Linked DNA regions of Homo sapiens. The protein of the gene in region 3 purifies or fractionates together with the protein of the main gene of each other region. This does not show direct contact. Each region holds a gene or a part of one and is shown on either strand. Other genes may lie near its edges.

The links.
Region 1: the proteins of PPP2R2D (region 3) and SERTAD4 purify together in Homo sapiens (affinity purification with mass spectrometry; 5 studies listed by BioGRID and IntAct, with this or other methods). This does not show direct contact.
Region 2: the proteins of PPP2R2D (region 3) and PPP2R1B purify together in Homo sapiens (affinity purification with mass spectrometry; 5 studies listed by BioGRID and IntAct, with this or other methods). This does not show direct contact.

Annotation. Positions count from the first base shown.
Region 1 is NC_000001.11:210,227,877-210,236,253, forward strand, and holds the start of SERTAD4 (SERTA domain-containing protein 4), read left to right. Parts: upstream 1-4,919; 5' UTR 4,920-5,135; intron 5,136-5,758; exon of another isoform or gene 5,759-6,009; intron 6,010-8,377.
Region 2 is NC_000011.10:111,755,932-111,763,670, reverse strand, and holds part of PPP2R1B (serine/threonine-protein phosphatase 2A 65 kDa regulatory subunit A beta isoform), read left to right. Parts: intron 1-2,619; coding exon 2,620-2,852; intron 2,853-3,719; coding exon 3,720-3,867; intron 3,868-7,739. UniProt on the Homo sapiens protein: The PR65 subunit of protein phosphatase 2A serves as a scaffolding molecule to coordinate the assembly of the catalytic subunit and a variable regulatory B subunit.
Region 3 is NC_000010.11:131,903,798-131,911,536, forward strand, and holds part of PPP2R2D (serine/threonine-protein phosphatase 2A 55 kDa regulatory subunit B delta isoform), read left to right. Parts: intron 1-7,739. UniProt on the Homo sapiens protein: Substrate-recognition subunit of protein phosphatase 2A (PP2A) that plays a key role in cell cycle by controlling mitosis entry and exit. Involved in chromosome clustering during late mitosis by mediating dephosphorylation of MKI67.

The DNA.
Region 1 (8,377 bases), on a different chromosome or scaffold from region 3:
AAATGAGGTAATAAAACTAACTGCCTGTTTATCCATTCTACATCCACTAGATTAGACTAGCACTATTTTAGCCTTGTTTGGGTTCTGTATATACGTGAAACTGTCAGTCAGTTGTTCAAACAATCATTATATATTTATTGAGTGCTTTCAGTATGCCAAGTACTTGTACTGTGCTAGGTGCTGAAGATACGGGGGCTAACAAAAAAGACAAAAATCCCTCCCCTTATGGACATTACTTTCTAGTGGAAGAAGAGAAGTGATACATTGAACACATGCATAACAGATTAGAAGGTGATCTTTATTTTATCCTCTGGATGAAAATCAAGCAGGCTATAAAGGTGAAGTGTTAGAATTTCAAGCATAGTGGTCAGGGCTTATTAAAAAGATGATACTTGAGCTGGGATGTGGAAGAGGTGGACATGTATCTGTGCAGCTATCTGAGGAAAGAGCACAAAAGGAAGAGGGAATAGCCAGTGCAAATGTCCTGAGGACAGCAAAGCTGGCTGTTAGAGGAACAGAAAGGAGGCCAGAGTGGCTGGAGTTGTTGGAGGCAGAGTGAGATCAGAGAAATAAAGAGAGACTTCTAGTCTTTGCAGGCTATTACAAGAACATGGCTTTTATTTTGAATGGGGAGCTCTAGGAAGAGCCTTGGCAAAAATTGACACCATTGCTGTTGACCCGAGATTGAACTAGAAAGAGGGCCAAAGATGTAAGCAGGAAGACCAGTTAGGAGGCCATTGTCATATCCTAGGCAGAAGATCATGATGAAAGCGTGGACCAGAATGGTGGTGGTAGAGATAATGAGAAGTGATCAGAGTCAAGAAATTTTTTTTTTTTTTTTTGAGATGGAGTCTCACTCTGTCACCCATGCTGGAGTGCAGTGGTGCGATCTTGGCTCACTGCAACTTCCGCCTCCCAGGTTCAAGAGATTCTCCTGACTCAGCCTCCCAAGTAGCTGGGACAACGGGTGCATGCCACCATGCCTGACTACTTTTTTTTTTGTACTTTTAATAGAGAGGGGGTTTCATGATGTTAGCCAGGATGGTCTCAATCTCCTGACCTCGTGATTCACCCCCCTCGGTCTCCCAAAGTGCTGGGATTACAGGCATGAGCAACCGCGCCTGGCCGAGTCAAGAAAAAATTTAAAGGTAGCCTCTCAAGGACTTTCTGATATATTAGATAAAGGAGATGAAGTAAAAAAAATCAATGATGACTCTAAGGAGTTTTGTCAGAGCAAGTAGAAAAATACTGTTGTTTATTGAAGGAGACTATTAAAGGTGGCATAGGTTGGGAAAGCAGAGATAATAGGGGTTGAGTTTTGGGTCTGTAAAGCTTGTGATACCCATTAGGCATCTACACAGAGTCTGGAAGTCAGAAGAGAGTCTTGGCTACAGATATGAATTTGGGAGTCATCAGAATATAGAGAGTTTTGAAGGGAAGAGACTAGATGAGATCCACAAGAGAGTGACTGTAGAGAAGAGACAAGGTGCAAGGACTGAGCTTGAGGCAACCCAACATCCAGAGGTCCTAGATAAGAGGGGGAACCAGCAAAGGAGACTGAGAGGAACAACCAGTGAGGCAGGAGGCAAATCAGGTGGATGTGTTGTCCCAGGAGCCAAGATAAAGGCGTTTAAAGGAGGAGGGAGTGGGCAACTGGGTCAAATGCTGCTTAAGGGTCAAGTTAGATGCAAAATGGCCTTTGGATTTAACAACGTGGAGGTCAGTGGTGACATTGACCAGAACAGTTTCAATGGAGTGATCGGATAAGAAAGCCTCAGTGGAAAAGGTTTGAGAATAGAAGAGGAATTGGGTGCAGATGCTTCTTTTTGCCATTAAAAAAATGTTTTTTTTTTTTTTATTGTTGCTGTTTGTTTTTTTGATGGATTCTTGCTCTGTTGCACCCAGGCTGGAGTGCAGTGGTGCGATCTTGGCTCACTGCAACCTCTGCCTCCTGGGTTCAAGCTATTCTCCTGCCTCAGCCTCCTGAGTAGCTGGATTACAGGCGCCTGCCACCATGCTCAGCTAATTTTTTGTATTTTTAGTAGAGGCGGGGTTTCGCCGTGTTGGTCAGGCTGGTCTCAAACTCCTGACCTCAGGTGATCCACCCGCCTTGGCCTCCCAAAGTGCTGGGATTATAGGCGTGAGCCACCGTACCCAGCCAAAAATGGTCTATTTTTTTAAGCCAGTAATTTTAACTTTCAATTAATCCAAGTGGGTATTGTGTCCACAACAATCTGAATAAGTCAAATTTTACTTGTGAAATCCCCCTATCAGACAAATGACAAAAAGGTTTTGTGAAATGGGTTTCAGCAATTTTAAGTCTGAAAGTCTCTTTGTTAAACAAAGGAAAACAACCACTGCCTTCAGTAAATTTGCAGCTCAAAGTATTATAAGTTTTATAATCAAACTTCTATTTGGAGCTTCTCACACACACACACACATACACACACACACACACCCCAAAATGATGACATCATAGTTGTCAATTAAATATTGTACCTCATTATAAATAACAATTACTCATTCCAAATTTTTCATTATTGATTTATAGTTGGTTCTTTTTTCATGCCATAGCTACCACATAGTCACCTTAAATTTGTAATGAGGTTTCTCATTCCATAGACATTTGTCTGCCTCTTGTACTTGTAGACACAGGTTCATGTTGTCAACAGTTGGGTATTGAATCTCAAAAAACATTAAGCTTAGGATTAAAGGTAGGGCAGGGAAAGCTGTCAGTAAAACATGCTAACCTAATGTATCTGATGAGGACAGGGTCTAGTTCATACTCAGAACTGCAAGGATGCTGTGAAGTACAATGATTTGATACTTGTGATACCATTTTGTTGTAACATTAAAGCCAAGAGTCTTCTCCACCCAAGGGCAATGCCAGTTTCCCAGAAGGCTCATTTCTCCGAGCCAAAGCTCCAAAGATGCCAGTGCACCCATGCTGATAACTTAGTCTCATGTTATTTCTCAATTTTATGCTTAATTTGCTCCTTTTGATTTTATGTATTTTCACACAGCCAAGTGTACATGGGGATTTACCCATAGTCCTTTAAATGCCATAAAACTTTAATATAGGGAGATAAAAACCATAATAAGCCATGCCTCCAAACCCTCACATTTAGTTCTTTTGAGTTTGACAATAACCAGTTTTAGATTATTTGGAAATTTGGATTTCTACGTACTTGCACTGCTTTAAATGCCCTTGTGCCTTTCCTAACCCTCCTCTCCCACCCAGATGAAAATTATACTCTACTCTTAACCTGGACATGCAACTTCCATTGACTGCACAAAATGGCATCTTTACAATTCTTAAATTATCATCATAATGGCCCACATCATGCATGAGCCAATGCAATTTAATATGGTTCAGAATAAAGCCAAGATGGATGCCCAATTCCCAATTTTAGGCATGCAACCCTGGAATGTCTTTTGGAAAAAATGAAATAATGCTCTTGGTAGGCTGTTGGGTTCATCTGTTTTAAGCATAATTGCCATCTCTCAGCTTCCTAATACCCTTAAAACCTCTGAGAGTCTTTAATGTACAAAGTTCAACAAAAACACCTTCAAAACAAATTAGTTCTAATTATGTTTAATATTGGTTTGCTGCTTTATTGAATAATCTACATTTGCTTTTAAAAAAAGGAAATTCACTTAACTGCATGTCAGTCACCCAAGTTTTAAGTGTACAAATGAAATGGAAAACATTTATTACACAAATTTAATTACAATTCTAAGAAATAAACATGCAAATTAGATAGAGTTCAATTTGCAGATGCTAATCCTCATCCTTGATCTTGTTCCTTCCTCCCTTGATTTTCAGTCTGTGCGTCTTCTTGATTCCTAGGGAGCCAGGCAGCCAGAGGTCTGGTTTTTCACAGTCGGAGGATCACTGTTTTAAAGAAGTGTTATATTTAGCACATCTGGTATAGTGGCAGTAAACAAACATTATAGTCTTTGTAACACTTTTGTGCAGGTGCCTTCTCCCGATTTTATTAGGTCTATGCCTTCCAAGCCTCTGCCTTCATTACACCTGAAATGACCCATCTCGACTATGGAGGGGTCCCTAGACAGAAGTTATGAATTAATGATTTTAAAAAATAAACTCTGAGGCCACTATAGGAGAAAATTACTATTTGCAAAATATTCTGATTCCAAGGCTTAAATTACATTCTCTTGAGCAAGGACAATCTCTTGTATTACTTTTTATTTCCTGGAGGTTTTCCCTGGAGGCTCCCCACCCAGAAAGGGTTGCCAATTCAAGTTGCAGCAGGACCAAGGTTGCTTTTTTTTTTTTTTTTAATACGTACGCAGCTCAGGAGGGAAACGGGCGGGGGCGGGCGGCGAGGGAGAATAACTGTTTGGTCCTGCAAAGACATCTGTTTCTCATCTCCGTTTGCTGTGGCAAAGGAGAAGAAAGTCTTTTGCAAAGGGTGGGAAAGGCACAGATTTTTTTTTTAATCACACGCACACACAACAACAACAAAACTAAACCAAATTTAAAAAGACAAGATATCTCGGAAGGTTCCAGAGTGAATACATTATTCGGCTGGAGCCAAGCCCCCAGGGCTAGGGCGGGAGCCCGAGAGCGCGTGGGGTCTGGGCTGCGGGCTGGAGCTGGGCCCGCGTGTCCCCGGGCACCGGGAGGGGAGGGGAGGAAAAGGAGGAGGGAGGGCGGGAAGCAGGGAAGGAGGCAGGGGGCGGGCTGGGGTGGGGGTGCGGGAAAGGCGCCCCGTGTGCAGCCTGAGGAGCGGCGGCGGCGGCCTGAGCAGAGGGAGGGAGGGAGAGCGGGCGCGCTTGTCATGTTCCCTCTCTCACCCTGGGGGCATCCTGCAGAACCTCTCCTCGGAAATCCACGGGGAAATGGCAAACAGGATTGACGGGTTTCACACGCTCCTCGCTAGACAGAGCCGCTCATTACCATAACCGTCTGCAGCGACGGCGGCGCAGCGCCCCAGTCGCGGCGGCGGGACCTGCCGGGACCCTTGCCCGCCGCGCACCCGCAGTCACCGCCGAGCGGGCGGCCGGGCCGGGACCCGCGAGTGTGCACCGGCGGCCGGGCTGGCGCCGAGCCCAGAGCGGACCAGCAGCAGCTCAAGCGCTGCGGCCGCCGCCTCCCCGCTGACCCCGCGGTAAGAGCCGGGCTGGGCGCGGGCCGCGGGGGCGGGAGGGCCGGGCAGGGTGGAGGGCGAGGGCCCCCCGGGGCTCCTGCCCTCGCAGACGGGCACCCACGCGGCCTCCCGCGCGCCCTCTTGGCACCAGGGCTGTGCCGAGGTCACCGAGTGGACTCGCAGCGGCCGGAGCGGAGTCGGGGCGGCGTGGGGGCCAAGGCACAGCTGGGCGCGGAGGCGGCGCGGGCTTTTCCCTGGGCTAGCGTGCGCCGCGGCGCCTTCACCAGGGCGGGAACCGCCGCCTCCTCTAGGGCTGCTCGGGCTGCCACCCGCGCGCACCGAGACAACTCCAGGGGCGGGTGGGGTCAGAAGCTCTGGTGAGACCTCATGGTCCTCCGTGGCCGCTTAGTCCCTCATCGTAGGGGAAGGGGTTAAGTAGGAGGGGTGCCCCCAGGTCCGGATGCCGCGGCGCTTGGCAGGTGGGGAGAGAGGGATTGTGGATGTCAGGAGCGCGCGTTTGCAAGAAAAAGGAATTGATGCAGTAGCTGACACCTTCTGTCCCCCGCCACCTCCGCCCCCGCACCCTCCTCCCAGGCAGCAGAGCTGCGCTGCGGGCGGCGGCGGCTCCTCTGTCCTCAGCTCACCTCCTCGGCGGGCTGAGGCTGCTGCCCGCCTGGTCCACGCCTCCGCCTCTCGCTTCCCTTCCTCCCCTCCCGCCTCTTCGGCCCTAGCAACTTTCCGAGTGCCCAGCTGTGGTCGCAGAAGCAGGGAATAGGCGTCCTCGCCGCCAGGTCCCACGGGCGCAGGGCGCTCCCGCAACCGCGGGCTTCCAGCGGGTTTGGCCGGCAAGGGAGGGAGGGAAGGCCGGGCCGACATCTGCTGCGGGCTGGAGCGCGGGGGCCCGGGCCAGCCCCGCCAGAGCCCTGCCAGCCGCTGTGAGTCATTTCCTTGGAATCCTACCTTTGGTGTTTATTTCCCTTAGAAGGAAACTTGGTTTTTTTTTTAAAAAAAAAAAAGGATAAGACATAAAGAATAATAATAGCTCTTATTCTTCAGAAGAGGCACACGGCTGCGGCACCGTAGAAAGACAACTTGCCTTTGTTCCCGGACACTTGGGGTGTTGTTTACTTTCTCCTGCGGCCAGCGGCCGACCGGGCGCTGCTGGCTACCCGGGGAGGGGCTGAGGGCTGCGGCACCGACACCCCGGGGGTGTGTCTGTGCGGGAGCCAGGATGTGGTTGGTGGCTGCCGCCCGCCTTCAAGAGGTCGGCCCTCCAAACCTCGGACCCCACCCCCGCAACCGCCACACACACACACACCTTGGGCACCAGGGCTCGGGCATCGGAGCACCCCTTCGTGCTCTTTAGGCCCAGCACCTGCAGCCCCAACCACAGGACCCAGCTTCAAGCTCTTGGCCTCGCGGGGCTGCAGCTGAGAAATGTACTTCCCAGGGCAGACAGGTGTACTGCAGGAACGGCAGAAAAGCGACATCTGTTTGTTTAGAAGGGTTGAAGAATTTTGTTCCGCCCATCCAGTCCCTTCCACTACCACCACCAGGAGCCGGACAAGCTATTGAGATCATTTTGGGACAATGTGGAGGTCAGGGGCTTGATGCCATTTAAAACTGGCAGCATCGATCGGGGGTGGAAATAGCCCTTTACTTCCCTGCTTTCCAGTGCTGGAATCAGACTGCTAACTGCTATAATGATCTTAATCAAATGCTCTCCAATTTTCAATGACAGATGGAAGAAGAAGTGAGCAAAGAATGACCTGGAGCCCCTTGTTAGATTCAAGGTGCCGCTGAATTCATAGCTACCCTGTTTTGTGTGCCAGCCACTCCTATTAGCATCATAATTGCTTCTAGGAAAGAACAAGCCCAACTCATCTGGAAAAAAACAAATTGTATAGAAATGCCTGGTAACTTTACTACGAACATTTGCTGGAAAAGCTTGGCATTCTAGCCCTCAGTCTTCTGGGGATGCTGGAAGTGTCATTCCACTACATCCACCTGGGTGTCAAAACAGACATTCAGGAGCCTGAGGATGAAGGGTTAGGGCTTTTTTTTTTCTTATCTTTTAAACCCATGCATAGACAAAACACACTCTAACACCCTCCTGTTGAATCCATCACCTCTGATCTTAGAAAATAAATTTTGCCATAATGTATATCCTTTTCTTTATTTAATATTAATAGAACACGAATTTGTGGACTTGAATTGCTGACGTCAGTAGCAGAATTATAAATCTTATCAGACAGAGAATTATGACAGTTTAGATCTCTACATATAATACGAAGAAAGATTCACGTTAAGCATTTGTGCTTAACGCTGCCCTGTCCAATTTTTCGTGAACATTCAACTTGCCTTCTTAATTTGTTAACATCCAGTGTAAGTTTTAAATAGACTAGGAAGACTCAATTGCAAAATCTCCTCCCCGCTCCCAAATAATCCCAACTCATTCATGTTTTATTCAGATTTACATAAATCACTTGCAGAACTCAGCCTCTCTAGTTTAGGGTTTTGTGTGTAACAGTTCTCAATTTAAAAAAGAAAAACTTAGTAAAATTAGATATTGTGAACAAAATAATAGCCAAGATAAATACTGTTATGCCATGTTTCAAGTTCACGTGCATAATAGGATATGCTGGAAATAATGCTAACAAATAGAAACGCTGAAATTCCTCACAACCAAAAAAGGTACTACCAAAAAGTTATTAAAATATAAACAAACTCTGACAAACATAAAACAGCACAGGGCCCATATAATGTCCTGTTAAACAAAAGTAATTGCTGCCAGGAGCCTGCAAATGTTTTTCTTTCTTAAGGGGCATGAGTTTGACAACCTGCTTTTGTTTACATGAAATAAAAGTCTGCATAGGCAAAAGGCTTGCATCTTATTCCCATGATCTAACACAAAAGTGAGTGTAAACTTCAAACTAGAAAATGTTGATTCTCTCAATAAGAAAGGGCTGCTGACTGTTGAAAAGCTGTAATTCATGTGCTCTTGGCAATAGTATTTCCTGATATGATTGTCTCTTAGAATAGGTGAAGAAACTGGACAATTTCATGAGAGTCTTCCAGGGAATAAATCATCATGAAGTTTGATACCCTACTTGGATGAGGAGTTTGAGAAATGATAGACAGAAGGACTTAATTTGTTAAATCAATGTAGGCTAAATTTCTTTGTTGATGACTCAAAGAGAAAAATAAATGACATGTCCCATCGTTTCTTTGTAAAGATTTAATCGAACCTTTCTTTTGCCCAC
Region 2 (7,739 bases), on a different chromosome or scaffold from region 3:
CTAGAATGTATTCTTGAATCCTCTGTGCCTTGTTCCACACATCTAATCCATTAGTAATTCCTATAGAGTCTACGTATATTTCAAATAAGTCCACTTTCTTCCATCCCTCCTATTACCAGCCTAGTCCAGACTGTCATCTTTCCTCTAGATTGCTGTAGTAGCTTCCTAGCAATGCTTTCCACTCTTGCCTCTCACCCGACTCTTACAGTTCACATCACCCAGCAGATGGCTCACTCTCTGCTATAGCTCTTAGAAAATCCAAATTCTGTACCTTAGCTTACAAGGCTTTTTATGACCCGCCTCTGTAGGATTATCATATGCCCAGTGGTACTGCATGAGAAGAGGTGACAGTAGGCAGGGAACAGACTGCAAAAGGCCTTGATAACCTCTTCCATTCACATTGGTCATCTTTCTGTTTTTTGAACTAACCAAGCTCATTATTCCCTTAGGACCTTTGCCCTAGGTCTTCCCTCTAATGAAAAGCTCTTTCAAGCTTTCTGTGGCTGGCTCCTTGTCATTCAGGGATCAACTTCAATGCATCTCCTCAGGGAGGTTTTCCCCAACCACTCAACTTAAAATAGCCTCACAGTCATCCCTTACTACATCATCCTACTCCTTTTTTCTATAGAGTACTCATCACCATCTACTTATTTTCTTGATTGATTGTTGTCTTACTCCATTAGAATGTAAATGCCACTAGAGTGAGGAACCTTGTCTGCCTTGTTTCTTCTGTGTCCTCAATGCTAGAATATACCAATAATAATGTATTGAAAAAATGAGTTTCAGAGGCTTGGAAGCATGAAACAGGCTGGGTTCAAAACTGCCGGAGTGTGGCTGGGTGTGGTGGCTCACACCTGTAATCCTTGCCTTGGGAGGCCAAAGCAGCAGGAGGATTGCTTGAGGCCAGGAGTTCAAGATCAGCCTGGGCAACATAGTGAGACCCCAACACTTAAAAAAAAATAGCTGGGCATGATGTCATGTGTCTGAGTCCTAGCTATTCGGGACGCTGAGGCAGAAGGACGAGGAGTCTGAGGCCGCACTGAGCCATGATTGTGCCACTGCACTTCAGCCTGGGCAACAGAGCAAGACCCTGTCTCTTAAAAAAAAAAAAAAAAAAGAACTGCTGGAGTGTGAAGTGTTGAGGCTGGGTAGGCAGAGTGGTCATCAAGGGCCAGGCAGAGTTCAAATCAAGAGACCACTCATAAGCAATTCTCAGGAGCATGGCCTCATCCTGTAGTAATGATAGCTATTATCCAGTGGTACTGCACGAGAGGGGGTTACAGTAGGCAGGGGACAGATCATGAAATGCATTGGCAAGTGAGAAACAGTATCTTTTCAATGAGTTTCTGAAATACCTTCTAGGAAAGCTGAATACTGTCTACCTGTGTGTATCAAACAATTTTTAAAATATATTATTAGACACACTTCTTTTCTTTAACTCATTATGCTTCTGTTTCACTCTTGGTTAGTTCTATATGTGGGTTTTATGCTTTAAAATCTGTAGCTCATGGCATGTGTAGAATCTACCTGGACTACATGCAAACTCAGTAAGGCAGAGGTTCAGAGAGCCAGCCTGTTTACACTTTTTACTAGGCCATGCCATATTCAGTTACTGCTCTTAATCCAGACCATCCACCCCATTTGGCTTCTTTTATTTCTAAAGCTGTAAGCAAGGTGTCCTACCATCTCTGTACTTTACCTTTTTTTTTTGAGACAAGAGCCTCACTCTGTCACCCAGGCTCAAGTACAGTGGCACAATCTCGGCTCACTGCAACCTCTGCCTCCCGGGTTCAAGTGATTCTCATGCCTCAGCCTCCTGAGTAAGCTGGGTTTACAGGCGTGTGCCACCATGTCTGGCTAATTTTTGTATTTTTTGTAGAGACAGGGTTCCACCATGTTGGCCAGGCTGGTCTCGAGCTCCTGACCTCAAGTGATCTGCCCACCTCGGCCTCCCGACGGCTGGGATTACAGGTGTGAGCCACCGTGCCTGGCCAGTCTCTGTAGTTTTCACTTGATTGTTCTGTCAGAAACTCCTTTCTGCCCTATGGCTAATGGAAAGTTGCTGAATGTGTTCTGAAAAAAGCAATTTTGCATTCAGCATTTTATAGGTTGGATAAAAGGATGGGATGGAGATGGTGGATAAGGGTTGCTTGCACCTCTGGGAATGGTGGAAAGATACTGAAAAGGCTGTGGACTCAGTGACCTGACAAGCTGTTATCCTGTATTTGTGGTGCCTAACATTGGTCATAGTTTTGTACTTACTCTTGAGGAAATATACATGATCCTGTCTGAATTTGGCTATGTATCTTTTAAACCTAGTGATTCAACTCACAGTAATATTAATATTGTGTCAAGTCTTTTACACTGTGTCATTTGTAGACACCATCTGGGAATTGCCATCTGGGACACGAGATCTTGGCTTTTCTACAGAAGTCGTGTCTTTGGGTTGGCCGCACCATATGTTATCACTGTGTGAGCTGAAAGTAACCATTTGGTATGATGCAGCTAACATTCTGGTTACGTGTACCACCTCCCTTCAGTCACTTTAAAAGGTGATTATCTGTTTCTAACCTGATTCAATAAGTTTTCTTCTCTGGTTTTCCTTTTTAATCCATTCAGCCTCCTTTGGAAAATCTGGCAACTGTGGAAGAGACTGTTGTTCGTGACAAGGCTGTGGAGTCCCTGAGACAGATCTCCCAGGAGCATACTCCTGTTGCTCTGGAAGCTTATTTTGTACCTCTGGTGAAACGCTTAGCAAGTGGGGATTGGTTCACCTCTCGCACATCTGCATGTGGTTTGTTCAGCGTTTGCTATCCCAGGGCATCAAATGCTGTTAAAGCAGAAATCAGACAGTAAGCCATGGTATTTTTTTGCCTTGTTAAAGCAGAAATCAGGTAGTAAGCTATGAGTTATTTGGGATTACTGGGGACTTGTAGCTGACAATTTACATAGTACCTTGTTACCAATGAGTGGCTGATACTAGGATAGTAGGATTTATGACATCTTTCTTTTTTTTTTTTAAGAGATAAGGTCTTGCTCTGTTGTCTAGGCTGGAGTGCGGTGGCACAATCATAGCTCACTGCAACCTTGAACTCTTGTGCTTAAGTGATCCTCCAGCCTCAGCCTCCAAGTAGCTAGGACTACCGACATACACTACTGCGCCTGGCTAATTTTTAAAAAAAATTTCTGGCTGGATGCAGTGGCTCATGCTTGTAATCCCAGCACTTTGAGAGGCTGAGGTGGGAGGATTGCTTGAACTCAGGAGTTCAAGACCAGCTTGAGCAACATAGTGAGACCTTGTCTCTACTAAAAAGAAAAAAATTAGCTGGGCATGGTGGGACCCGCCTGTATTTCTAGCTACTCAGAAGGCTGAGGTGGGAGTTCACTTGAGCCCCCGACAAACAACAACAAAAATATTTTTGGCATATAGATAGGGTCTTGCTATGTTGCCCAGTCTGCTTTCAATTCCTGGCCTCAAGCAGTCCTCCTACCTGGGCCTCCCAAAGTGCTTTGATTACAGGTGTGAGGCACCATGCCTGGCCTATGATGTCATTTTTTATTATCCAGTTGAATATGTTTTATTTTTGTTACTTCTATAAGTAGAAGCTTAGTCACTGATTATTGTAAGATAAAACCTCTAAAAGTCTGTCTGTGTGTATGGGGGGCAGGTTTATTCAGTGTTATTTGATGGGAAATACCTTCATTGTTTTATGTTGCAGGCAATTCCGTTCCTTGTGCTCAGATGACACACCAATGGTACGACGTGCTGCTGCTTCCAAATTGGGTGAATTTGCAAAAGTTTTGGAATTAGACAGTGTGAAAAGTGAAATTGTTCCACTGTTCACTAGTCTAGCTTCAGATGAACAGGTAAACTAACTCTTAGTATTTAAGGGACACAGATATGCTCCTTTCCTCTAAATTTTCAGAATTTCTTTGGGGAGTTTTAGTTTTCTTGTTAGGATTCTTTTTACAGAATTAGTGCTGATTCTGGCCTGGTTAAAGTGTAACATGCTTATCTCAATGTTCTTATGTTTCTTTCTTAACCAGACCATGATTTCTCTCTTACATTAGCAGCTGTTAAAAGAGTGGGGAGTCAGAGAGGAAATGGGAGCCATAATTAGAAAGGAAGACCAAAGCTGCATGGAGGGTAACATACCTTTGGGAATTGCTGGCTGTATTGTAATATGAGGGAGTAATGTTTCCTGGAATTTTTGACTTTTCAGATAAATAAGCTTAGAATGTGTTAGGAAAGCTATTTGACTCTCTGCTTCTTCTATAGTAGTGTATGGGATTACTTCACATAATCGTATTCAATTCTGAAGATCTAGATCTCTTTGGTGTAGAAATAACAATAAAACTAGCAAACATCCAAATGAAGTACTTAATTTTTCTCTGCCTTTAAGTAGTTATGTGTATTAAGTAATTCAGTCCTTACAACAGCCCCATGAGATAGCCCATTTTACACATTAGAAAACAAAGGCACAGAAAGTTTAAGTAACTTGCTGAAGTTTGCATAGTTAGCAGTAGTGGAGTCAGAATTTGAATCTAGGTGGTTTGGCTCCAGAATTTGTGCCCTTCACAGCTAGGCTGTCCCGCTTCTCTGTAATGGTGCTTAATAGGATCAGCTCCCAGAGTTCCTGGACTCTAGAATAGTCCTTTTGGGCTTTTAATTTGCATGTTGCCTGCCCTAAGATCGCTTCATGTGTACAGGACCACAAGCCCCAGGACACATATTAATGAGTCTCATTTTCAGATCCTAAATCTAAAGATCTAAATCCTACTTTGAAAATAATTTTAAAAATTATTAGAATTTTTATTCTAATAATAAATGTACAAAATGAATGTATAACTTAATGAACTATTAGAAGGTAATACCAACTTGTTAACGATCACCTATGATAGGAGACATCACTTTGACAGCCACTATCCCAGAATCCCTCCATGGATTCCCTTTCAAACACAATCTCTCTTTCCTCCTCCACTTGCCACTCCATTTCCTTAAGAGTAACATTATCCTGACTTTTATGGTAAGCGCAGCCTTTGTTTTCTTTGCACTTTTTCTTTTCTTTTCTTTTCTTTTTTTAAAAGGAGTCTCACTCTGTCACCAGGCTGGAGTGCAGTGGTGCAATCTCGGCTTTCTGCAACCTCTGCCTCCCGGGTTCAAGCAATTCTCCTGCCTCAGCCTCCCAAGAAGCTAGGACTACAGGCGCATGCCACCACGCCAAGCTAACTTTTGTATTTTTAGTAGAGACGGGGTTTCACCATGTTGACCAGGATGGTCTCCATCTCTTGACCTTGTGATCCGCCCACCTTGGCCTCCCAAAGTGCTGGGATTACAGGCGTGAGCCACCGTGCCCGGCCTTCTTTGCACTTTTATTACCTAAATGTTATAGTTTAAAACAGTGCTTTACAACAGAAATATAATGTAAGCTACCTGTTGATTTTAAGTTTTCTACTGGCCATGTTTTTATAAGAAAAAAGAAATAGGTGAAATTAACAATATTTGTATTCGACCAAAATTTTCCAAAATCTTATTATTTGAGTGTAAATAACGTGTACCAGCCACATTTCAAGTCTCAGCATGAGATGATGTTGTTAATAGGGTGGTAGTGAAGATGGAAAGGATTTGGATGTCAGTTTGGAAGTGGGATCAATAGGTTAGTATTATTGGATTGGATCAGTGGGAGAGGAATCAAGATCTCCTAGATTTTTTGCTTGAGCAACTGGGTGGATGATGGTGTCATCGTTAAGATAGAGAAAATTCTGGGAAGAGGAACAGGTGTAGGAGAGAAAACGAAGTTCTGGAAGAGAAGTAATTTTTTTTTTTTTTTTTTTGAGATGGAGTTTCACTCCTGTCGCCCAGGCTGGAGTACAATGGCATGATCCCAGCTCACTGCAACCCCTGCCTCCCGGGTTCAAGTGATTCTCCTGCCTCAGCTTCCTGAGTAGCTGGAATTACAGGCGCCTGCCACCATGACTGGCTAATTTTTTGTATTTTCAGTACAGATGGGGTTTCACTGTGTTGGGTAGGCTGGTCTCGAACTCCTGACCTTGTGATCTGTCCGCCTTGGCCTCCCAAAGTGCTGGGATTACAGGTGTGAGCCACTGCACCAGACCAGAGAAGTAATTTTTTAACAAATATGTATTAGCTTATATTTCAGTAGTTGATTAGCAGTCCCATGATTTAGCATCATTTTCGAAATTCAAAAATATCTGTGTAGTCACTACCAAGAACTTAGTCCTGTCTTTTTTAGCCTGTGCACCTGCATACAGAGGAATGTGTGTGTCTTTGGCATATAGTCAGTTATTGTTGATACACAGTTTCTAAGATTTGTAATATTTTGGAAGTTGGAGTCACTGTTATGTCTCTCAAGTATGTGTATACGTATATACATAACTGTTATTGTACACACTTAAAATTTTTTACCTATTTCTCCTGGGTGCTAATGTTTACATGTATTAAGATTCTACCTTATATATGTATAATACACAAATCTACAGTCTCAATTTCTAATTTCTCATTGATGTTTCTTTTTTTTCGGTGTTTTTTTTTTTTTGAGTTGGAGTTTTGCTCTGTCACCCAGGCTGGAGTGCAGTGGCGCGATCTCGGCTCACTGCAGCCTCTGCCTCCTGGGTTCAAGCAATTCTGCTGCCTCAGCCACCTGAGTAGCTGGGATTACAGGCACGTGCCACCATGCCTGGCTAATTTTTGTATTGTTAGTAGAGATGGGGTTTCACCATGTTGGCCAGGCTGGTGTTGAACTCTTGACCTCAGGTGATCCGCCTGCCTCGGCCTCCCAAAGTGCTGGGATTACAGGCATGAGCCACTGTGCCTGGCCCCTCACTGATTTGTCTTGTATATTTTCCACTTGTTCAAAGGACGTAGGTGTCACGTTGACATTGGCTGTTTACATTTGGAAAGTTGAGTTCATTAATCCCATACTTTTCTAATTTCTGTGTTTTTCTAGCCACAGCTTCCTCAAAGTTATTCTGTCCTTGATCTTCGACATTTAAATCCAACTGATTTTTGTTTTTGATTTCTAACTTTTAATTGTTCTGTGTATTTCTTTCCAAGTCATTATCTTATGCTGCCTACACTCCTGTTACTGCGACCCTGATCTGAGTTTTTTGAAAACTAAGCTTTCTAAGTGATTTCCTTTACTCTTACTCTTACCTTTGTCCTAATCTGTTATAAATAACTTGTACAAATATTGTTTTCATTTTTATCCCTCAACTTTCTGTTATAGTAAGGCTTTGAAGGCATCATTAAAATGTTTTTTTTTTCTTTTTTACTTAATTTTAAAATTTTCATTTCCTTTATAGAAACTCTGCATTCTAGCCAAGGTAATTACTTTGCTGTTTACTCATAGTACAAAGTCATTTCTATCTTTATGACTTTGACATGCCATTCCAGGCAAAGGGAGCAGCTCTTTCTTTTTTTTTTTTTCCTTTTTGTTTTTTGAGACAGAGTGTCACTCTGTCGCCCAGACTGGAGTGCAGTGGTGCAGTCTCGGCTCACTGCAAGCTCCGCCTGCTGGGTTCACGCCATTCGCCTGCCTCAGCCTCCCGAGTAGCTGGGACTACAGGCACCCGCCACCACGCCTGGCTAATTTTTTTTGTATTTTTAGTAGAGATGGGGTTTCACCGTGTTAGCTAGGATGGTTTCCCTCTCCTGACCTCGTGATCCGCCTGCCTCAGCCTCCCAGAGTGCTGGTATTACAGACGTGAGCCACTGGGCC
Region 3 (7,739 bases):
AGTGATGATGAAGGGAAGTGTAGTCGTTAGTCACCAGGGATTGCTGAGCAGCAAGGATCAAGAAGCTGGTCATGCCCAAACGCAACCTTGAGGGAGAGATGTTGGTGAGAGATAAGAGATGGGTGGCTGGGTACGGTGACTCACACCTGTAACCCCAGCACTCTGGGAGGCTGAGGCGGGTGGATCACTTGAGGTCAGGAGTTTGAGACTAGCCTGGCCAATATGGCGAAACCCCATCTCTACTAAAAATACAAAAATTAGCCAGGCGTGGCAGGGCCGGCCTGTAATTCCAGCTCCTCAGGAGACTGAGACAGGAGGATTGCTTAAACCTGGGAGGTGGAGGTTGCAGTGAGGCGAGATGGTGCCATTGCACTCCAGCCTGGGCGTCAGAGCGAGACTCCGTCTCAAAAAAAAAAAAAAAAGGAGAGAGATGGCCGGGCGCAGTGGCTCACGCTTGTAATCCCAGCACTTTGGGAGGCCGAGGCAGGCAGATCACAAGGTCAGGAGATCGAGACCATCCTGGCTAACACGGTGAAACCCCGTCTCTACTAAAAATACAAAAATTAGCCGGGTGTGATGGCGGGCGCCTGCAGTCCCAGCTACTTGGGAGGCTGAGGCAGGAGAATGGCATGAACCCGGGAGGCAGAGCTTGCAGTGAGCCGAGATCGTGCCACTGCACTCCAGCCTGGGCGACAGAGCAAGACTTTGTCTCAAAAAAAAAAAGAGAGATGGGCAGTTCACAGGGGTTTTTATCGTGCACTGCTGCTCAGGCTGTAGAACTTAAGGTATAGCAGATTTTGTTTGTTTAGATTTGTGGCTTGTGAGGCATTTTGTTCTTGAAGGTTTTGTTCTGGGCCAAGTTCAGCTCTGTAGAGCTTTACTACAGCCCTGCACTCTGGCCGTCTTTCTGCCCTCTCTGCAATGGGTAAGGAGAAGGAGCCTTAGAGATTAAGGCCTGGGTCCTCTCCTGACTTCAGTGGGGTGATGCCCAGTGCACAGGAAGTGGTGCAGGGCTAGGAGTAGGCACTCCTGACTTTGGAGGTCATGAAGTGAGTGACATAGAAAAGCCTTTGGTTTTTGTTTTGATTTCTGTTTTGTTTTTAAAACTAATAGTTTTGGGCTGGGGAATCAGAATCAACCTATGGTGAAAGTGCTGGCCTATGTAAAATTTGATGCGCACCCCACCCCCCTTTTTTTTTTAAAAGAATTGGGTTTAGCTATGGGTCAGGTCATTTTGCTAAGAGTTGTGATTCCACTGGGTCATCAGACTTCCCATCCCCCTGCAGGTAGGAGTAGAGCTGAGCTCACAAGGAAGTTATTAAGTGTCCTGCTGATGAGCAGGTGTATAAGCAGCAGTCAGTGGTGACTTGCATCTCCTCCCTTTGCTGGAAGGTGGGACTAGGTGAGTTTATATGCTGAGTTGACCAAGAGTTAAAATAGTAAAACCAGGGGGCTTCCAGCAGGAAGCAAGTAGAAAAGTTGTTTGTTAGCTTCTAATTCCACGATGTTGCGGTTCTAAACGGTGGCTCCTTTCTGGAAATTGTTAACTGTTGTGCAGATTTTTTCTGCATGTTATGGAATCACCTTCACCCAGCCCCTGCTCCCTCTCCTGGAACGTACTTCATTCAGCATGTGATGTGTTTTGCAATGTCACATGGTATTTCATCCTTTGCTTCTCTCTCTGGTAGACTGAGCTCCTCAAGCTTGAAGGCTGGCTGTCCCCCTTCCCACCCCAGCCCTTGTAGAGGACCCAGCACGAAGGTCATGATAGGTAACAGTTGCTGAGTGGTCATTCTGTGCTAGAGATTGCTCGCAGTGCTTTTCCTATGTCAGTGAATCTTCACACCACCGAAGAAGGAAGGAAATACTGTTCTTCCCAGTCTCAGATGCAGAATCCGAGGCGTGGGAGCAATTAACCTGGGTCACAAAGCGAGTGTATGGCAGGGCCAGGGTTTGGAGCCACGCCGACTGGCCGCAGAGCCGTGGAGCGCTGTACTGCTTCAGCGACCATTTGCAGCCAGCACAGTACTGATGAAGCCCCACTGTGGCATGCGGCCGTCCAGCCTTGGGATGGAGCTGTTCTTCTAAAGCTCGGTGAAAATCTTACTACCAAGAGGCGTGTGAAAATGCTTTTGAAGGCAAATGAAAATGGAATGCCTTTAAAGGAAGTCTGTGTCAAAATGATAGAAGATTAGTAACAAGGATTCAAGAATAGCATCACTTTCCAACCAATTCTCAAACTATTTGAAGAGTAGATACCACAGAGACAGTAAGTAAGTGAAACACCTGCACGTCAAGCAAGTGCTGCAGCACCTTTGCCTGTGATGTCACTTTCCACATGACTGCAACCTGCTTACCTGCAGGGAAGCTATGGGTCTTGCTCCTTTATATATTACACTAATTGCTCCTATGGAGAAACCGTGGGGAGGGGTTGGGGGAGGAGGGTCTTATATTGAACCTGGTTTTATATAGCTTTATAGCTTGATAACAGCTGGTTCCTTTCTTCTCAGAATTTGTAGTTTTAAGTGTATTGGGGTTTTATTTGTTGATTTTGCTTTAATCAGTTTCTTAATCCATGATCTGTTGCTTTGAATTAGACATTAACCTGTTTCTAAAGAGATAGACTAAACAAAACTAAAGGTTTGTTTGCTTAAGTCAAGCTTGAGTCTGGGGAGTTATGTAAGTAACATAGATATCTGGTTAATCTGGTAGGATAGCCTTTCCAAGGGAGTTTACATTGGTACTTTGAAAGAAACATTTTAAGTCGCAGAAAGGTAACAAAAATTAAGTTAACTGTAGCATCAGCACCAGAAAGTTACTGTTTCATTGAATGTAAGATAATGTCTGGCTCGGTGGCTCACGCCTGTAGTCTCAGCACTTCAGGAGGCCAAGATGGCAGGATCCCTTGAGCCCAGCAATTTGAGACCAGCCTGGGCAACATAGTGAGATCTTGTCTCTACCAAAAAAAAAAAAAAAAGAAAGAAATTCGGGACGTTTGCCAGGTATGGTAGTACACACCTGTAGTCCCAGCTACTCAGGAGGCTGAGGTGGGGGCATCGCTTGAGCCAGGGAGGTTGAGGCTGCAATGAGCTATGATTGCACCACTGCACTCCAGCCTGGGCAATAGAGTGAGACCTTGTCTCAGAAAAAAGAAAAAATAATAATAATTATATATGTATATATATAATCTTTGAAATTAGGTGTGTCTTTTATATATAATCTCCTATAATGTCTTTTATATGTATATATAAAATCTACATCTAATTTCAGAGATACTAAGATGTGGGGAAATGTACTTAGAATCAATGAAATACGGTGTTGGTGAATGCAAAACTTGTCAGTCATATTTATTGATTTCTTCTGTGTACAGATAATGGGCATTTGGTATTTATTCATTTATATTTTTTTTTTGGTCTTAATGGGACATGGTGTCTGCTTATTTGAATTATTTCCGGTCTGATTTCTATATTCCATTGTAGAATTTTCATTTACTTAATATTTATATCTGTGCCATTGAAGAGAACCTTCAGGAAAGCATCCTCTGGGGAAGGCCATCAAACAAGCAAACAGTCTAGTAATATTTTGCAGTTTGACTTATGAGAGCTTCATAGGAAGCCTCTGCCTTTAGGAAGTCAGTTGTATGCCTTAAGATTCACAGACTCGCCGGGCGCAGTGGTTCACGCCTGTAATCCCAGCACTTTGGGAGGCCGAGGCGGGCGGATCACGAGGTCAGGAGATCGAGACCATCCTGGCTAACAGGGTGAAACCCCGTCTCTACTAAAAAAAATACAAAAAATCAGCTGGGTGTGGTCGCGGGCACCTGTAGTCCCAGCTACTGGGGAGGCTGAGGCAGGAGAATGGCATGAACCCAGGAGGCGGAGCTTGCAGTGAGCGGAGATCACGCCACTGCACCTCCAGCCTGGGCAGCAGAGCGAGACTCCATATCAAAAAAAAAAAAAAAAGATTCACAGACTCATCATGCTTAGTACAGCCACATCTTAACGCTCAGGAGGCTGGCCTGGTCATCGTTACATCGTGAAGTTAAGTTTACAAGATATGTGGTGGTATTGAATCATACCTGGTGATTTTCCACGTTCCCTGATTTTAAGCAGTCTGCTGTTCTGATGGGAAGTTCCAGGTTGGGTTTGTGTCTGCTGTTTTCAACTCTGAGGGCCCCTTTCTGAGCTTCAGCTCGCTTATCTAGAAGTTAAATCAGAAGCTTTTTGTTAAGATCAAACAATGTGCAGTGCTGTTGCAACTTGAAAAGTGCTTTTCAAGTATTAGATACAACTGTTAATTCTCTTGTATTTTAAAGTATTGGGGCTTGGTTTTAGCTATATTTAAACACAAAAATAGCAGTTTCTTGTTTTTCCTTACCTGCTTCATGTCCATCTACCCAGATCCCTTCCACTGGGCCTGGCCTCTTAATGTTTACGTTATTATTCAGTGATTATTCCCATCCCTTGATCTTTGCTCCTGTTTCTTTCTTTGCCTAGAGTATTTATTTTGCTTCCTGTCCATTCCCTAAGCCCTGCTGATCCTTCTAAATCCACCTCCAATCCCACTTGGCGAGTCCCTGCTCCAGCTCCCCTCAGCGTTCAGTGTCGTCTTAGACTCCAGATTTCCCTTTCACACTGTGTTCCATGTTGTTTAGCAATTGGCTGTGTCCTGCTTGTGGTTCCCTTATTTTATCACATGTATTATTAGGCTCGTCTCTCCCACTGGATGTCAGTCAGCATATGGAATGTCATGATATTACCAGGTGATGGAGAGGAATTGTGCACGTGGAATTTGGTACACATCCCTTTTTCACCCTCTTCAGGCTTTGTGTTAACTTGGGAAGTTACTTACTCTTTTCTCATCTGTTAAACGGGTACTATTACTTGTGACCATTACAGGGTTGCTGTGAAGATTCCAGAAAATGTATGGAAAGCTCTGACAAACAAACACGTTAACTGGTAACTGTTCAGAGGCTGTTGTCTTAAGAGACCCTCTTGCATAGGAAAATAGCTGACTCTGTCACTTCAGGGAGCCAGTTTAAGAAAAATGAAGGGTAATGCAGGGGCCAGCTTTCAGCTTGGCACATCTGAAAAGTTCACGACAGCATACCAAAGGGCTGCTAGTGCTGGCTGTTGGAAATAGAAATGCAGTTCTTGCCTTCAGGAAACGCTGTTTGGACACAGACAAGCAGGTGGGTCCTTGCACCATGGCTGGACCAGAGCACACTGAGGCAATGTGAAGAAGTACCCAGTACACAGACTTGGGTAGGGAGTGGAGGGGAGGACATCAGGGTATAAGAAGAGGGAGGAAGGGAAGGGGAGGAGAATGTTCCAGGTGGAGAGTGCTTGGTGTGGAGGTTGGACAGAGCATGGTATGTTCTGAGAGGTCAGTGCTTGGCATGGTCCTCTGGCAGAAAAGGGAGTGGCTGTGATGAGCAGGAGGCTGGCTGGGGCCACAGGATGATGAATAAAGGACTTGAATCGTGTGCTCAGGACTCTGAGTGATTGTGAGCTTTTCAGATCCTAAGCGGAGGAGCGACATCAGCTTTGTTTTTAACAAGGTCACTCTGCCCTTTGGAGAGTGGATGGTGGTGGGTAAGAATGGAGATAGGAAGTTACTGCAATAATAAAGATTGGGAAAATGGGCTTACTCTAGTTTCGGGGTGGCCAAGCTTTTTTGTAAAGGGCCAAATGGTAAGTATCTTAGACTTTCAGGCCATCCTGTCCCTGTTGCAACGACTGAATTCAACTCTGCCTTTAGCAGGAAGACAGCCATAGACCCTGCAGAGATGGATGGGCGTGGCTCTGTGCCCTGCTTCCACAGGAGCATGCCTACAGAAAACAGGCAGCTGGCCAGATGTCGCCCAGGTTGTGGTTTGCTAAACCCTGACCTAGAGTTGGTTTGCAAAGTCTTTTGGTGCTGGAATAATTTTATACTCTTAATAGTTATATTGAGGATCCAGAGAGCCTTTGTTTGTGCTGGTTATCGCTGTTGATGTTTTCTATATTTGAAATTAAAACAGAACAACTTACAATATTTATTTTACTTTAAAAGAATCTACTACATGTTAACATAACCTTTTTAATGAGAAACAACTTTTCAAAAACAAAAAGATTAAGCAAGAAGAACAGTGTTGTTTTACACTTTTGCACATCCTTTTAAAATATGAGGTTTAAGAGGTGACGGCTGGATTCTCAGACCTGCTTCTGCATTCCGTGTGTTCCAGTTGCTTTATTGAAATGTGTAAGGAAAATGTGGCGTCACACTTCCATGTGGGCAGAAGAGGGGTCATCCTGGAGGCTCTTAGCGATGCACCATAACTCGCCAGGTGGCAGCGTGTTTGAGTGTGCCGGCCTTTCGGAGTCAGTGACGTTTCTGTACTCTCTTCCGTCAGAACCCTGAGGTCTGTCTTGTGCTCAGAGTGGGTCTTTTGCTCATGGACATGATTTGGTAACATCACACGGGGGTTGTTTGGAAATATTGTTACATGGAGTTGTTTTTTTTTCTAAATGTTAACACATTCCATTATGTAAACTTGAAGAAAATCCTATTTTTTAATGTCATCACTGATCTCATCAGAAGAAAAAGTGAGAAACTGTCAAATTAGCAGTAGTAGAGAAAAGTTTTCCAAAATTCTAATTTTCTCTTGAAAGCTTGGATTTTATCATTGGTAACAAATACTGTCAGTTACTTTCTGTGAAGTGAGGGACGCAGTGTGTTCATTTTCAAGTCAATTTCTGCCAGATACCAAATTCTTAATAACCAAAGTTGGTCAGTTGTTCTTTCAAATAAAAATGGCATTCCATGAAAAAAAGGGCTAGTTCAGCTTGTGTGATACTGTGGAATATGTATTTGGTCTTCCCTAGTACACAACTCCTAAAATCCTCGGGCTCGTCAGTGATGTCTTCGTAATGCGTTGGCTAAGGGCCGGCAACCCCTGGGTAGCTTCAGAACAGGGGCTGGTCACCAGAAAGACCTAGGCAGGATTAGAAGGTTGGGACTTTCAGCCCCGATCCCCAACCTCGGGGAGTGGTGAGGGGTGGGGGAGCTGAAGGTTAAGCTGATCACCAGTGGCCAAACAGTCTTGCCTATGTATGGACTGGGTTTGAAGATAGCTTCCAGATGTTTCTGGAGGGGGGCCCACCCAGAGAGGACACGGGAGCTCTGTGTCTCAGCCCCCGTCCCTCGCCCTGTGCATCACCTCAGTGTCCTCTGTAGTCTCCTTTATAATAAACCGCTAAACTAAAGTGTTTCCCTGAGATCTGCGTGCTCAGTGAGGGTTGTGGACACTCTGATTGATAGCCAGTCAGTCAGAAGCACAAGTAACACAACCTGAGGCTTGCCGTTGGCTCTCGAAGTGGGGGGCAGTCTTGTGGGACAGAGCACTCAACCTATGGGATTTGATGCTTTCTCCCAGCATCAAGATTTAATGGAATCAGGACCCCAGCCAGTGTCCGGCTGCAGAACTGACTGCTTCCTTGCTGCTGGGGAGAGGTCCCCACACCTCTGGTGTCCTAAGTGTGCTGTGAGGATGTGATGGGAGAAACTGAATTTTGTTTTTTGTTTTTCAACCCCAACAACTGTACCGTGTGCTTTTTCTTGAGACAGTTGTACTTGGGGATGCAGCAAAAGTTCTTTTGTGGCACATTTTATCACAGGGTTGGAATTGAATAAAGTGGTGAATTATTTTAACTGTTCATCAGGGAATAAGCTAAGCAAAACTGGCCTTTTTCCTTTTT